Homo sapiens: one gene and its partners. The protein of the gene in region 1 purifies or fractionates together with the protein of each later gene. This does not show direct contact. Each region holds a gene or a part of one and is shown in the gene's direction. Other genes may lie near its edges.

Region 1 (3,500 bases):
TCACTCCATATGCAGTATGTTGGTTATCAACATACTGTCCTTAGCTTGGGGCAGTATCCCTGATTTTGAGACAATTAGAAAAATCTGACCCAAATTCTATTTTGCATTTTCTCATTTAATAAAAATATACTCATATATTTATTTAAAATATGTTTATTTAGTGCCTAATATATTGCAGGCCATCCTCATATCCCGATGCAGAAGGAAAGTGTCATTCTCCTATTTGTACACTGGTACCTCCCCTTCACCTCACATGGCACCCAGCATTGTAATTTTTATATGACTGGTGCCATCACATGATGCTGAAATAAAGCTATCATACTGAGATCCCACCTTGACCTATAACCAGACCCTCAGAGCATCTTGAGCCAAGACAGAGAACATAAGAGATGATTCCATGTTTATTTCCAGGAACTCCAGAAGAAGAGTTCCAGGTGAAATAGCCTCAGACTTTAGTGTCAGTCAATCCCGGAGATGTCCTAACCCTGGCCTGCAATATGTCTGCTCTGTCCCCAGAAGGGCCTGTCTTGTGGTTCAAGAGCATTGGGCCAGGACAACAATTAATCTTTAGTTGCAATGGAAGCCACTTCCCCAGAGTAACTCCAGTGGAAAACACAATGGTTGATCAAACTGACTATTCCATTCGCATCAGTGACGTGTTGCCAGAGGATGCTGGCACCTACTACTGTGTGAAGTTAAGGGTAGGACACCCTGACATGGAGTTTTTCTCTGGTCCAGGCACCACCGTGTATGTGAATGGTGAGCACAGCCTGATGCACTTTATTCCCTGGGTTTATGAAGATGAATCTTTAAAACCCTTCACCATGTACCAAATCATCACTACATACTGAACACCATGCTCCTTTATCCACGAACTACCCTGTAGACTAGGTTTCTTCTAATAGCCTTTCTAGTAAGCCATTCTGGACAACCTGTGCCAAATACTGAATCAAGCTATGTTGACAAGCCACATCCTTCTCTGATGCCAACCCCACCAGAACCCAATGACATAGGAGACATTTACAAATAAAAAGATACTGGATATGCAAGGTGCAACTACATGTGTGCACTGCATGGCCTAAATGGTAAGAAAACTGGGTCCTAGAAGGCTGACTGACTTCTAAGGTTTTACGAAGAAACCTGGGCCCAGGTATATGCATTGTGTATATTATGACTTATTCCATGACCCTGAACTTCCAGTCACAGATGCTAGTAGCCACATCTTAGCTTCTGATGGAATCTCAACATAGGTGAAGTTTTCCCCAAAATGCCCAGTATCTCCTGGGCCAAAACAAAGGGCTCTTCAGGCAGGTAGAATCTCTACATGCCTCCATGATCCCAGTCACCTTCCCATTACCAACTGGAATGTGATGGGGACCTGATAGCAAGTACCTGAGTGGTCACCACAGTCCAGTCTGAGATCACACTCCCATTCCCCATACAAGTCAATGAGTGGATGTGATCTCCTACCATGGCCTGGCACTGTTGTTAGGGAATTCTTAGACCAGAATGAGGGGTCTTGTGTATCAATCTCTCCAAAGTCTTTTTTGCAAAAAGCCTTCCCATAGGGGTTGAGTCATTCCCTGACACTTGAACTTTCCCAGGTCTGTCCTGAGACTTCCATGCCCAGCCCCACTGTTCTTTAATTCCCAGTATTTTTATTCCCAGGATAACCAGTATTTCCTTCTCCTCACCACCCTCTGAATTAACGTCATGAAATACAGTGGTATTAGGTGTCCCTCAGTTCTACCAGGAGAACTGACCTTCCCAGTAATGTTTCCCTTGAATCCAGACACATTCCATAATGCCAAAATGGCAATGGAAAATCCACAGGTTTCCCTTAAGTTACATAATGTCAATGCAGGCTGCCTTCCTACCATTACCTCCTGGCCCTGCCAGCCAGGAGTTCCCTTTCTCTCTAACCTGCTCCTTAGGCAGTCTGTGGTTTTGACAACCAAGCTTAATAGGAGAGATTATTACCAGGACCTGACACATTGTAGGGTAGTGATGATGACTGTGTAGGAGGGTAAAGGGTGGCTGGTGAGAACCTCCAAAATTGTAGAGGGCCCTTGAGGTTCTAATCTCTTTTTGTTGAGGAGAGGAAACCCTCTCCCTTCTCTCTCTTGAAGAGATAAGTAGTGGAACCATATGCTGTTGCCAAGACCACCTCATTCTTTAATTGTTTTAACTTCTTCTGTGCATCTCTCAGCATGAATTTCTGTACAAATTCAGAGGCTAATCACCCTTCAGAGGAGAGAGGAAGGCCAACCCCAAACTCAGTGGAGATGTAGGGTTGAAGGACAGGACTTGAACCCAGTTCCAAATGTACCGAGTGACTCTAGGCAATTAGATGGATAGGGAAACTAGTCTTTCTCCAAGAACATTACCCATTGATAATTGCCCCTTCTCTCTCCCTGTCCTCCTCTTACCACGGTTGAGGGCTGAGGAATGGAACTGAGGAGGAATACATCTGGTCTTCTGGACTAACTCCCTTCCTTCAGCACTCTAGGGAGAAGCTGCCTCCATGTGCAAAGGCCTCTCTTTACTCAATGCATGGGCATTTGCGCATGTCATTAAAAGAATTAATGAATGAGGCCCAACCGTGACCCGTACCCATGCTTAAGCCAGAACAGGGGAAATGAGAAATGATTTTCAGCTTTTTTCCAGGAGTCACACATGTGTTCCATGTGCAACAAACGGAGATGTCACAGACTGTATCAACTGGGGAGTCAATCATCTTGAGTTGCAGCGTACCCAATACCTTACCAAATGGACCTGTCTTGTGGTTCAAGGGAACAGGGCCAAACCGGAAATTAATCTACAATTTCAAACAAGGTAACTTTCCCAGAGTAAAAGAGATTGGAGACACCACCAAGCCTGGCAACACAGACTTTTCCACCCGCATCCGTGAAATCTCTCTTGCTGATGCTGGCACCTATTACTGCGTGAAGTTCATAAAAGGAAGAGCTATCAAGGAGTACCAATCAGGTCGGGGCACTCAGGTGTTTGTTACTGGTGAGTATGTCTCCTATACCCCATACCCCCTGGTGTATAATATCATCTCAGCAGTTATGTCTTCTATTCATTCAATAATTGCTATGTGCCAAATATTATTGAAGGTACAACATACATTTGATCTTTTTAATTCTCTCAGCAAGCTGTGAGTTAGGTATTTTACAGGAAGAAAAAAAGACTTGAAAAGGTTGAGTGATGAGTGATAAGAGCTATTTTGGTTGATTTCTCAATATTTAATCCACCCCCATGACTAACCTAAGCCAACTAGGATAATTCCATGTTCCCTGCTAGAGGTTTACTCAAATATGGGCTGAACTTGGCCAGTTTGGGTCTATCAGAGAAAAAGACAGGCTTGCAGAAAAATCTGGTAATCTAAAGTAATTCTTCCCTTTGTTGGCTGGAAACAAGCAACTGTGTTGCTCCAGGTGCTTTAAGCAGGCATCTTATGACCATGAGGGGAATAAGGTTGAGAAAAAGTCTAGATG
Region 2 (3,500 bases), on another chromosome or scaffold:
ATGGCCAGAAGGATCTACTCTTCAAAGACTCTACCTCGGAGCTTGTGCCCATCGCCACACAGACCTATGAGGCGTGGCTGGGCCATGAGTACCTGCACGCCATGAAGGGTCTGCTCTGTGACCCCAACCGTAAGTCCACCTGTCCCCACTGCTGCCAGCTCCAGCCCAGCTCAACCTCGGGCATGGCGAGGCTCTCTGGGAAAGTGGCCGGGGGAAGACGCTCACCAGGGAGGCCTCTGCGGGAACCTGTCATTTCCATTCCTCTGCCCCTGGGGCTTTGGGGAGGAGGCATCTCTTCCACTGTATGGCCTGTTGTACCTCGGAAGCCCCACCTGGCCGCAGCGGGGGAGGATGCAGACCATCAGAATCTGTCTTGGGAAGGGTCTCCTCGCCCCCCCATCCACGGCCATGGCATCCTGTCAGCTCTTCTACAGCCTCTCGCTCCTACTCCCCGCCTCTACCCCATGGCTACAGCCCTGGCGCAGGTGCCATCTTTCGCCTGGACTATTGCAGTAGTCTACAAGTGAGCTTCTTGCCTTTAGCCCCCTGGCCCCATGTATCTTCCACCTCCAGCCAGGGAAGTGGGTACCACACACTGAGTTACATGCACGCCAGCCATGGTCTTCCTCAGGCCTCACAGTTGCCCCTTTTCTGTGTGAGGAAGTGGGATCCGATGGTTAAATAACTTATCCCAGCCACACACCTGACAGGAGAAAGGCCCAGAATTTCCCTTGGGTCCGACTCCATGCTCTTCCATGGCAGTACTGGCCTGGCAGTGACCGCTTGCTTGCCCCACCCCAGGGCTGCCCCCCTACCTGCGCTGGTGTGTGCTCTCCACTCCCGAGATCCAGAAGTGTGGAGACATGGCCGTGGCCTTCCGCCGGCAGCGGCTCAAGCCAGAGATCCAGTGCGTGTCAGCCAAGTCCCCCCAACACTGCATGGAGCGGATCCAGGTGGGAGTCACGCAGGTGCAGCGTGGGCCAGGTGGGCGGGTGGTGGCAGTGCCTGGGCAGTTCTTACTACCCACACCCCCTGCTGCCTGGGGAAGAGGAGAGTGTCTACTGCAACAAGCCCACAGAGACGGGTGGGGAGGAGCGACCGCAGGGGCCAGCACCCACCCCAGGGGACAGAGACAGGCGGGGAGGAGCGACCGCAGGGGCCAGCACCCACCCCAGGGGACAGGCAGATAGGGGTGAGTCCCCTGGAGAGCCTGGGAGCTCCTCACTAAGTGGGGGTGCCAGGAGCAGAAGAAGCGCTGGCCCAGCTGGGCACTGACGCCCTGTAGCCTGGGGCAAGCCCCTTCCCCTTTCTGAATCTCAGCCTTCCCTTGTGCAATAGAGAGTGGGCGTGGATCATTGTTCGACTTTTTTTTTCTTTTTTCCTGATTTTTCTAAATAGACAAATAATAATTGTGCATATTCATGAGATACATACTGATGTTTTGATACATAGAATACATGGTGATCAGAGCAGGATAATAATTAACATACCATCATCTCAAACATTGCTCATTTCTCCGTGTGGAGAACATGCAATATCGTCCTACCTGTTTGAAACTATGTATTATTGTTAACTCTAGTCATCCTACAGTCTATAGAACACTGGAGCTTATTCCTCCTATCTCTCCTGGCTGGGTGCATTGGCTCACACCTATAATCCCAGCACTTTGGGAGGCCAAGGTGGGTGGATCACTTGAGGTTAGGAGTTCAAGACCAGCCTGGCCAACATGGTGAAACTCTGTTTCTACTAAAAGTACAAAAAAATTAGCCGAGCATGGTGGCACACAGTTGTAATCCCAACTACTTGGGAGGCTGAGGCAGGAGAATCGCTTGGACCCGGGAGGTGGAGGTTGCAGGGAGCCGAGATCACACCATTGCACTCCAGCCTGGGCGACAAGAGAGAGACTGTCTCAAAAAAAAAAAAAAAAAAAAAAACTCTCCCTATTCCTCCCTTCCCCTACCCTTCCCAGTCTGCAGCATCCTCTGTTCTACTTTTTACTTCTGTGAGATCAACTTTTTTTAGCTTCCACATATGAGTGGAACATATGGTGTTTAACTTGCTGTGCCTGGCTTATTTCACATAACACGGTGTCCCCCAGTTCCGTCCGTGTTGCTGCCAGTGACAGGATTTCATTCTTTTTTATGGCTAAATAGTATTCCACGGTGCATGCCAATGACATTTTCTCTATCCATCCTCTGTTGTTGGACACCTGGGTTGATTCCACATCCTGGCTATTGTGGCCAGTGCTGCGATAAACATGGGGTGCGGGCATCCCTTCCACAGGCTGATTGCCTTTCCTTTGGACAGATTCCCAGTGGTGGGATTACTGGACCATATGGTATTCAATAGTTCGATTTGTAGTTTGTGGAGGGACTTCCGTACTGTTTTCCATAGCGGCTGTCCGGGTTTACATCCCCAGCAACGGTGTGTAAGAGTTTCCTTTATTCTGCATCCTCACTAGCATTTGTTATTTTTTATCTTTTTGATAACAGCCACCCTAACTGGGGTGAGCTGATACCTCACTGTGGCTTTGATTTGCATTTCCCTGATGATCAGTGATGGCTGCTGGCATTTTGTATGTCTTCTTTTGAGAAACGTCTGTTCTGATCATTTGCCCGTTTTTAAGTTGGATGGTTTTCTGCTGTTGAGATGTTTCCGTTGCATGTGTATTCTGGATATTAATCCCCTGTTGGATGAGTAGTTTGCAAATATTTTCTCTCATTCCATAGGCTGTCTTCATTTCACTCTGTTCGTTGTTTTCTCTGCTGTGCAGAAACTTGTTTGTTTGATACAATTCCCTTTGCTTATTATTGCTTTTGTTGCCTATGCTTTCGAGGTCTTTTCATAAAATCTTTTCTCAGACCAATGTCCTGAAGCGTTTTGCCTATATTCTCTTCAGCAATTTTATTGTCTTGGGCCCTGCATTTAGGCCTCTCATCCATTTTGAGTTGGTCCCTGTGCTGGGTGAGGGGTAGTTTAGGGCCCCGTTCATTCTGCACTTGGACATTCAGCTTCTTCCCAGCAGCGTCCACTGAAGAAGAGATCACTCTTTTCCCAAAGAGGTTCTTGAAACCTTTGTCAAAAATCAGCTGGCTGTAAAACTGCGGGTTAATTTCTGGGTTCTCTATTCTGGATCATTGGTCTATATGTCCGTTTCTATGCCTCTATCTTTGTTCTTTTTGCTTAGGATTGCTTTGGCTATTCAGGGTCCCTTGTGGTTCCATACAAAGTTTAGGATTGTTCTTTCTAATTCTGTAAAGAATGTCATTGGAATTTTCATAGGGAAGTTCAGCATTGCTGACAGCACCGAGCACTCAGAATACATTTTGCATTGATCACAATCTAGTGAACGGAAACTTTTCTTTCAGATAGAAATTTAAAAATGTATGTCCTTTATATACAGAGATATGACACAAATGGTACCCACTATTTTCTAATGTATTCTATTCTAATCCTTTTTTTCCTGACACTTGTCATGACCCACTCGATTTGGCCCCCAT
Region 3 (2,515 bases), on another chromosome or scaffold:
GTTTCTCCATGTTGGTCAGGCTGGGCTTGAACTACCGACCTCAGGTGATCCGCACATCTGGGCCTCCCAAAGTGCTGGGATTACAGGCATGAGCCACCATGGCCAGCTGAAACTCGGTCTTAAAAAGAAAAAAGAAATGAGCTGCATCACGTTGGGCAAGTCACCTAAGCTTTTCATAAGCCTGTCCAGTGGGGATAATGCCACCTCCTTGTTGGTGTCGTAAGGGCTGCATTTGATGAAGTACTTGGCGATGCCTGTGTTCACTTATGGAAGAAACAGTCTTGAACCTTTTGGTGGGGAAAGCCCCCTTTCCATTTAACATTTCCATTTAGTGGTGGTCTTACTGGGGACAGAGAATGTCCTGAGAGCACAGCCCTGACAGGTCGTTGCCAGCTGTGCTCCTCCACCAGGCTCAGCTCAGGCCTAATGACCACCAGTGGTGGGTGCTGCCAAGCTGGACGTCAGCCCCGGCGGACTTTGAACTCCATGAGTAGGTCCCACGCAGGGACCTGTGGCTGGTCAGGACCCTGGCTCCCACTAGGCGCTATCTCTTCAGAAAGGCCCAAGGCTTTTCAAGGGTAACTGTCCCAGATACCCCTAGCCCTCTGCCTACCCAGTTACCAGACAGCTGGGTACCCAGCATGTAAACCTTAGTTTGCAAATAAAAGATAAACTTTTAGTGCTTTTTTTTTTTTTGGAGATGGAGTCTCACTCTGTCGCCCAGGCTGGAGTGCAGTGGCACAATCTCAGCTCACTGCAACCTCTGCGTCCTGGGTTCAAGCGATTCTCCTGCCCCAGCCTCCTGAGTAGCTGGGACCACAGGCACCCACCACCATGCCTGTATAATTTTTGTATTTTTAGTAGAGATGAGGTTTCACCATATTGTCCAGGCTGGTCTTAATCTCCTGACCTTGTGATCCGCCTGCTTTGTCCTCCCAGAGTGCTGGGATTACAGGCATGAGCCAATGTGCCCAGCCAGTTTTTGTATTTTTAATAGAGGCGGGTTTCCTCATGTTGGCCAGGCTGATCTTGAACTCCTGACCTCAGGTGATCCACCTGCCTCAGCCTCCCAAAGCACTGGGATTACAGGCGTTGGCCACCACACCTGGCCACTGTTTTGGGTTTTTTTCCCCTAACAGACTAGAAAACTAGAAATTAACACACCAGGGAACCTGGGTGTTTGGGCAGAGCAGTGGTATTTAAATATTTCAACCCATAAATTGTCACTTCAGAGCAAGCATCCTGAAACTGTAAGAGGACATTTGGCTGAGCATGGTGGCTTGTGCTTATAATCCCAGCACTTTAGGGAGGCTAAGGAGGGCAGATTGCTTGAGCCCAGTAGTTTGAGACCAGCCTGGACAACATAATGAGACCTTGTCTTTACTAAAAAATAAAAATAAAAGATTACCGGGCATGGTGGTGCTGGAGAGGCTGAGGCAGGAGGATTGCCTGAGCCCAGGAGGTTGAGGCTGCAGTGAGCTATGATTGTGTCACCGCATTCCAGCCTGGGCAACAGGGAGAAAAAAGAAAAAAAAAGACATTTCTATTTAGTGCCTACCTTAGCTCCAGACTGGTTCTAACTTGACCCATCAGAAGACATCTGAATCGCTTTGTGTCTTTTTTTTTTTTTTGTAGCACCGACGAGAGTGCTGGGGAATAAAAAGGGGATCTTCACTCGGCAGAGACAACCAAAAAGTGCAGCGTTCCTTTTGCGAGAGAGATACTGGAAGATTGCCAATGAAACCAGGTATCCCCACTCAGTAGCCAAGTCACAATGTTTGGAAAACAGCCTGTTTACTTGAGCAAGACTGATACCACCTGCGTGTCCCTTCCTCCCCGAGTCAGGGCGACTTCCACAGCAGCAGAACAAGTGCCTCCTGGACTGTTCACGGCAGACCAGAACGTTTCTGGCCTGGGTTTTGTGGTCATCTATTCTAGCAGGGAACACTAAAGGTGGAAATAAAAGATTTTCTATTATGGAAATAAAGAGTTGGCATGAAAGTGGCTACTGAAAAGCATCTGAAATCATTTCTGTGCGTCGTGCTGTTTTCAGAGCTTTAACTGTGTGTGGACTTTTGAGAAACTGCTGCTCCAACACCCCCACCACGTTCAGAGCAGCTGGTTCCCGAGGGCGTCTGCAGGAATAGCCCCATGGTCCTAGGGCCACCGTGTTTGTGTAGCAAACCAGGCCAGCCTCGACAGGGAGTGAGTAGAAGACTTTCACAGCTGCTGTTCGACTCCTCAGATGAGCTAAAGTCCCACATGTACCAACAAATTCATAGAAACGCTGTCATTGTTGCAGCACTTAACAGGGTCTGTGTGCCAGTTTCTACATAGTTAAGCTGGCAGTGTCTGAATTGGAAGGTTAGAGGTAACTGGTTCTCCCAGAACATTGTTTTGACCTCAGCCATAGGGTCTTGACAGAAATGGACAGATGAGTGTAAAAGCCTATTGGCTTTATCATAACGGATGCCACTGAATGTGACAGGACCTCCTTAAACAACTTTGCCTACAA
Region 4 (4,234 bases), on another chromosome or scaffold:
TCAGCTGCAGACAGGCCTTTGGGAGTCTTCCACCTTTTGGGGATTGTGATGGCTACTTCTGACCTGCACCTCGCCCAGAGCAAGGGGCTGGCCGAGCCCAGTAGGCGCCTTGTTCCTGTTTGGCCTGGGAGGGCCCTGGGGTTGAGGGAGGGCCTGGTCAGTGGGATCCAGCCTCCCACTGCCACTGAGCCATCTGGCCTCATCTGTCCGACTGCCACTGGTGAACTCATCTGTCCACCATGAGTTTCGAGCGCCGGGTGGCAGGAGGTTTGGGGGCAGGGGACGGAATGTTCACATCTTCAGGCTGCACAGTCTATGCTGGTCCTTGCAGTCCCCGGCTAAAGCTTCTGTCGTCCGTAAGGGGTTCAGTATGTAGTGGGACCCCTTTGCTTGTGCCTTAGGCCTTCTGTGATCTGACCTGTCGTCCCCACCCACCACCCATGCCCTGGGGTTTCACTGGGCTGCCAAGAGCTCCTTCCTCAGGCCCTTGACCCAGGCTGTCTGCTCTCCCCCATTCTCTTCCTGTCCACCTGGCCAGCCACTGCCCACTTCCTCCCATCAGGCCAACTCAGCAGTCCCGGATGCTGGGAATCCCACACTGCTCCAGCCTGAGGCTACAGTGTGTTTGCGAATCGCCTGTTTCTGCTTGTTTCATCTTGGTGGGGGCTGCTCCTGTGGCCCAGGGGTGTCCTCCCAGCTCCTGTGTCTCCACGTGCTGCAGGCCTGCAGGGGTGCCCGTGGCTGCTCCATTCACGCCCCTCCAGGAGCCCCGTCTGGCCCGGGGTCGGTCATCCGGCAACTATGGGGTGCCGCTAGGTCTGAGGAAAGGGGCCTAAGCCTGCGGGCTGCGCGCTCTTCAGCAGGACCCCCTCCTGCAGACGGCCTTACCAAAACCCGAGGCCTGGCCCCGCTCCAAGGCGCAGCCCCCAGGCCAGGCCTTCCCCGCCTCTGGAGTCATGACCCCTCTCCTCTGGGGCTCCACCGGCCTCTGGTCAGCAGGACCGGACCTGGTTGGGAGGGATGTGGCCAACAGGCCCAGGTCCCAGTGTTAGGAAGGAGCAGGCCCGGCCGCCCGCGAGGCGGAACCACCAGGTGGGCCACCTTCCCTACCGCCACCCCGAGGTTCCAGTGGACATCAAAACCTCGGCTCCATCAGAGGCTCCAGGACTCCGATCGGGACAGCGCGGGGGGCGAGGCCAGGGTGAGGGCGCGGCGAAGGAGAGACGCACAGCGCGGGGCGGGCAAGGAGCCTCCCTTCCGCGCCAAGGCCCCCCCCAACCCTCGAGGCGCTTGGACCGTGGGATAGTCCTCCGGCGGCGCCCGAGCTCCGGCCCCGCCCCCGCTCCGCCCCGCGCCTGCTATTGGCGGAAAGTTCCGGGCCGCGCCGCGACTGGCCGACACGCCGCAGGCCCCGCCCCCTTCCCGACCCGCTCCAAGGCGGCCCCGGCGCTGGGGCTGCGCGGCAGGCGGAGCGGCCGCGGGCTTGGGGGCTTCGCCGGGGCCGGGCGGCCGGCGCCCCCGGCTGCTCCCGCCGCCGCCCGGACCCGCGCCCCGCCGGGGCAGCGGTGGTGAGAGCCCCGACTCCCCGGACGCCGCCCGCCGTGCCATGGGGTTCCCGGCCGCGGCGCTGCTCTGCGCGCTGTGCTGCGGCCTCCTGGCCCCGGCTGCCCGCGCCGGCTACTCCGAGGAGCGCTGCAGCTGGAGGGGCAGGTACGGTCCGGGGGGCTGTCCCCGCACTTAGGACGGGGTGCGCTGCGGCTAGGACCCCCCAGGCGCCCCTCGGAGCGCGCAGAGCGCTGGGCCGGTTTCCCCATCCGCGAGGCGGCCTCGGGAGGGAGCGGGGGCTGCGCCGGGCGGGGACCCGCCCCCGTCTCAGCGCCCCGTCCCGTCCTGTCCCCAGCGGCCTCACCCAGGAGCCCGGCAGCGTGGGGCAGCTGGCCCTGGCCTGTGCGGAGGGCGCGGTTGAGTGGCTGTACCCGGCTGGGGCGCTGCGCCTGACCCTGGGCGGCCCCGATCCCAGAGCGCGGCCCGGCATCGCCTGTCTGCGGCCGGTGCGGCCCTTCGCGGGCGCCCAGGTCTTCGCGGAGCGCGCAGGGGGCGCCCTGGAGCTGCTGCTGGCCGAGGGCCCGGGCCCGGCAGGGGGCCGCTGCGTGCGCTGGGGTCCCCGCGAGCGCCGGGCCCTCTTCCTGCAGGCCACGCCGCACCAGGACATCAGCCGCCGCGTGGCCGCCTTCCGCTTTGAGCTGCGCGAGGACGGGCGCCCCGAGCTGCCCCCGCAGGCCCACGGTCTCGGCGTAGACGGTGAGTGGCGGTCTGGTTGGGACAGGGTGGGAGTCCCGAAGTCTTACCCTGCCTGGGCTTGGCGGGAATGTGCCTTGTCGGCCCCACTGCAGAAGGAAAAAGTGAGCTACAAGGGTTGGATGGGCTTGTCAGGCCACACAGCCTGGGACTGCTGGGGAGGGATGGCCTCCCCGCCCTCCCTTCCCGATTCATCTCTGGAAAGAGCTGGCAGGGGCAGAGTGGAGGGAAGGGGAGGCCGGGCCCAGCAATCCTGGGCCTCTGGTCCCTGAACGGTTGGGGGAAGAGATGGTGGGGACAGAATCGAAGCCTCCGGCCAAAGCTGTCCGGGGCTCCCTGGCCCAGCGGTGACCTCTCTCCCCTCCCCCAGCCCAACCAACAAAAGTCCAGTGTGCAGCCCGGTCACCATGGAGACGCCGCTCGCCTCCCTGCAGGGCACCAGGCCCAGCTCTTGCTTGGCTCTCCTGGAGCTTGGCGCCTGACCCTGAAAGGGATGGGCTCTCGCTATTCTGCCCCCTGGCCCTGGGCCAGGGACCCCAGACCACCCTTCCTCTGCCCCCACTTCCTATCACCCTAGCTGGGCTGCTGCTCTTCAGACCTCAGATCCGGGAAACTAGAGGGGTCCCAGATGCTGGGGTGCATATGTCAGATGGGAGTGCAGGAGGGCGGCCCAGGACAGCTGATCGCTAGGCATGGCCCCCAGGCCCACGTCTGTGTGCATTCCTGCCTTGGAGGTACGCGCCTGCAAGTGTGTTTCCTGAGTACAGGTGTCGCCGAGGGCGTGCACATCTGCTGTGTAGCTCTCTGGGACCCCCAGGTGCCATCAGGCCCTGAGCGTGGGCTCTGCTCATTTGCCTGCTGCCTCCTGCCGCTTGTGCGGACAAGGGACGGGGCCTGGGGTGATGCCGGGAGAGGGCAGGGCCTCTCCTCACCACCCCCTCTGCATGCCAGGTGCCTGCAGGCCCTGCAGCGACGCTGAGCTGCTCCTGGCCGCATGCACCAGCGACTTCGGTGAGTGTCCCCGCCATGGGGGGAGCCTGGAGCCTGCCTTCCCCTGAATGCCTACCGCAGCCACATGCCTCCCCACAGTAATTCACGGGATCATCCATGGGGTCACCCATGACGTGGAGCTGCAGGAGTCTGTCATCACTGTGGTGGCCGCCCGTGTCCTCCGCCAGACACCGCCGCTGTTCCAGGCGGGGCGATCCGGGGACCAGGGGCTGACCTCCATTCGTACCCCACTGCGCTGTGGCGTCCACCCGGGCCCAGGCACCTTCCTCTTCATGGGCTGGAGCCGCTTTGGGGAGGCCCGGCTGGGCTGTGCCCCACGATTCCAGGAGTTCCGCCGTGCCTACGAGGCTGCCCGTGCTGCCCACCTCCACCCCTGCGAGGTGGCGCTGCACTGAGGGGCTGGGTGCTGGGGAGGGGCTGGTAGGAGGGAGGGTGGGCCCACTGCTTTGGAGGTGATGGGACTATCAATAAGAACTCTGTTCACGCAAGCTGCTGTGGACCTGGTCTCCTGTGTCCAGCCCAGCCTTGGGCCTGCCTCGCAGCTGTGAGGATGGCTCCAATTCCTGCCTCCTGGCGGGAGACTGAGGCTCAGGGGAATGGTATCTTGTTCAAGACCATTTGGCAACTGAGAGGGAGAGCAGATGTCAGGAGGAGCTACACCCACATTCCGGGGAGGGGCCGCTGCTGGGTGGGGGGCACGTGGGGACCTGCACTCATGCAAGCTTCTGCTCTGCTGCACCCACCAGCCCCGTCCTTGCCCGCACCCTTGCCTGCTTCCCTGGCTGGCTCCCACTTGCCTCCCGTGCCAGGTGCTTCTGGGGCTCAGCAGGAGAGGAAAGGGGCAGAGGGGCATAGGGTCCCTCGGGTACGGTGGGGGCAGGCGGGCGCACAGCGCTCCGGCTCTGAGCCAGGCCTGTGAGGGAAG

Evidence for each region. Proteins that work in one complex are often made in the same cells at the same time.
Region 2: the proteins of SIRPD (region 1) and MELTF purify together in Homo sapiens (affinity purification with mass spectrometry; one large-scale study listed by BioGRID and IntAct). This does not show direct contact.
Region 3: the proteins of SIRPD (region 1) and GUSB purify together in Homo sapiens (affinity purification with mass spectrometry; one large-scale study listed by BioGRID and IntAct). This does not show direct contact.
Region 4: the proteins of SIRPD (region 1) and METRN purify together in Homo sapiens (affinity purification with mass spectrometry; one large-scale study listed by BioGRID and IntAct). This does not show direct contact.

What each region holds. Positions count from the first base shown.
Region 1 is NC_000020.11:1,551,206-1,554,705, reverse strand, and holds part of SIRPD (signal-regulatory protein delta isoform 1 precursor), read left to right. Parts: intron 1-2,656; exon of another isoform or gene 2,657-2,667; coding exon 2,668-3,015; intron 3,016-3,500.
Region 2 is NC_000003.12:197,012,818-197,016,317, reverse strand, and holds part of MELTF (melanotransferrin isoform 1 preproprotein), read left to right. Parts: coding exon 1-129; intron 130-801; coding exon 802-953; intron 954-3,500. UniProt on the Homo sapiens protein: Involved in iron cellular uptake. Seems to be internalized and then recycled back to the cell membrane. Binds a single atom of iron per subunit. Could also bind zinc.
Region 3 is NC_000007.14:65,960,184-65,962,698, reverse strand, and holds the end of GUSB (beta-glucuronidase isoform 1 precursor), read left to right. Parts: intron 1-1,635; coding exon 1,636-1,802; 3' UTR 1,803-2,015; downstream 2,016-2,515. UniProt on the Homo sapiens protein: Plays an important role in the degradation of dermatan and keratan sulfates.
Region 4 is NC_000016.10:713,684-717,917, forward strand, and holds the start of METRN (meteorin precursor), read left to right. Parts: upstream 1-1,434; 5' UTR 1,435-1,606; coding exon 1,607-1,710; intron 1,711-1,900; coding exon 1,901-2,301; intron 2,302-3,249; coding exon 3,250-3,309; intron 3,310-3,387; coding exon 3,388-3,704; 3' UTR 3,705-4,234. UniProt on the Homo sapiens protein: Involved in both glial cell differentiation and axonal network formation during neurogenesis. Promotes astrocyte differentiation and transforms cerebellar astrocytes into radial glia.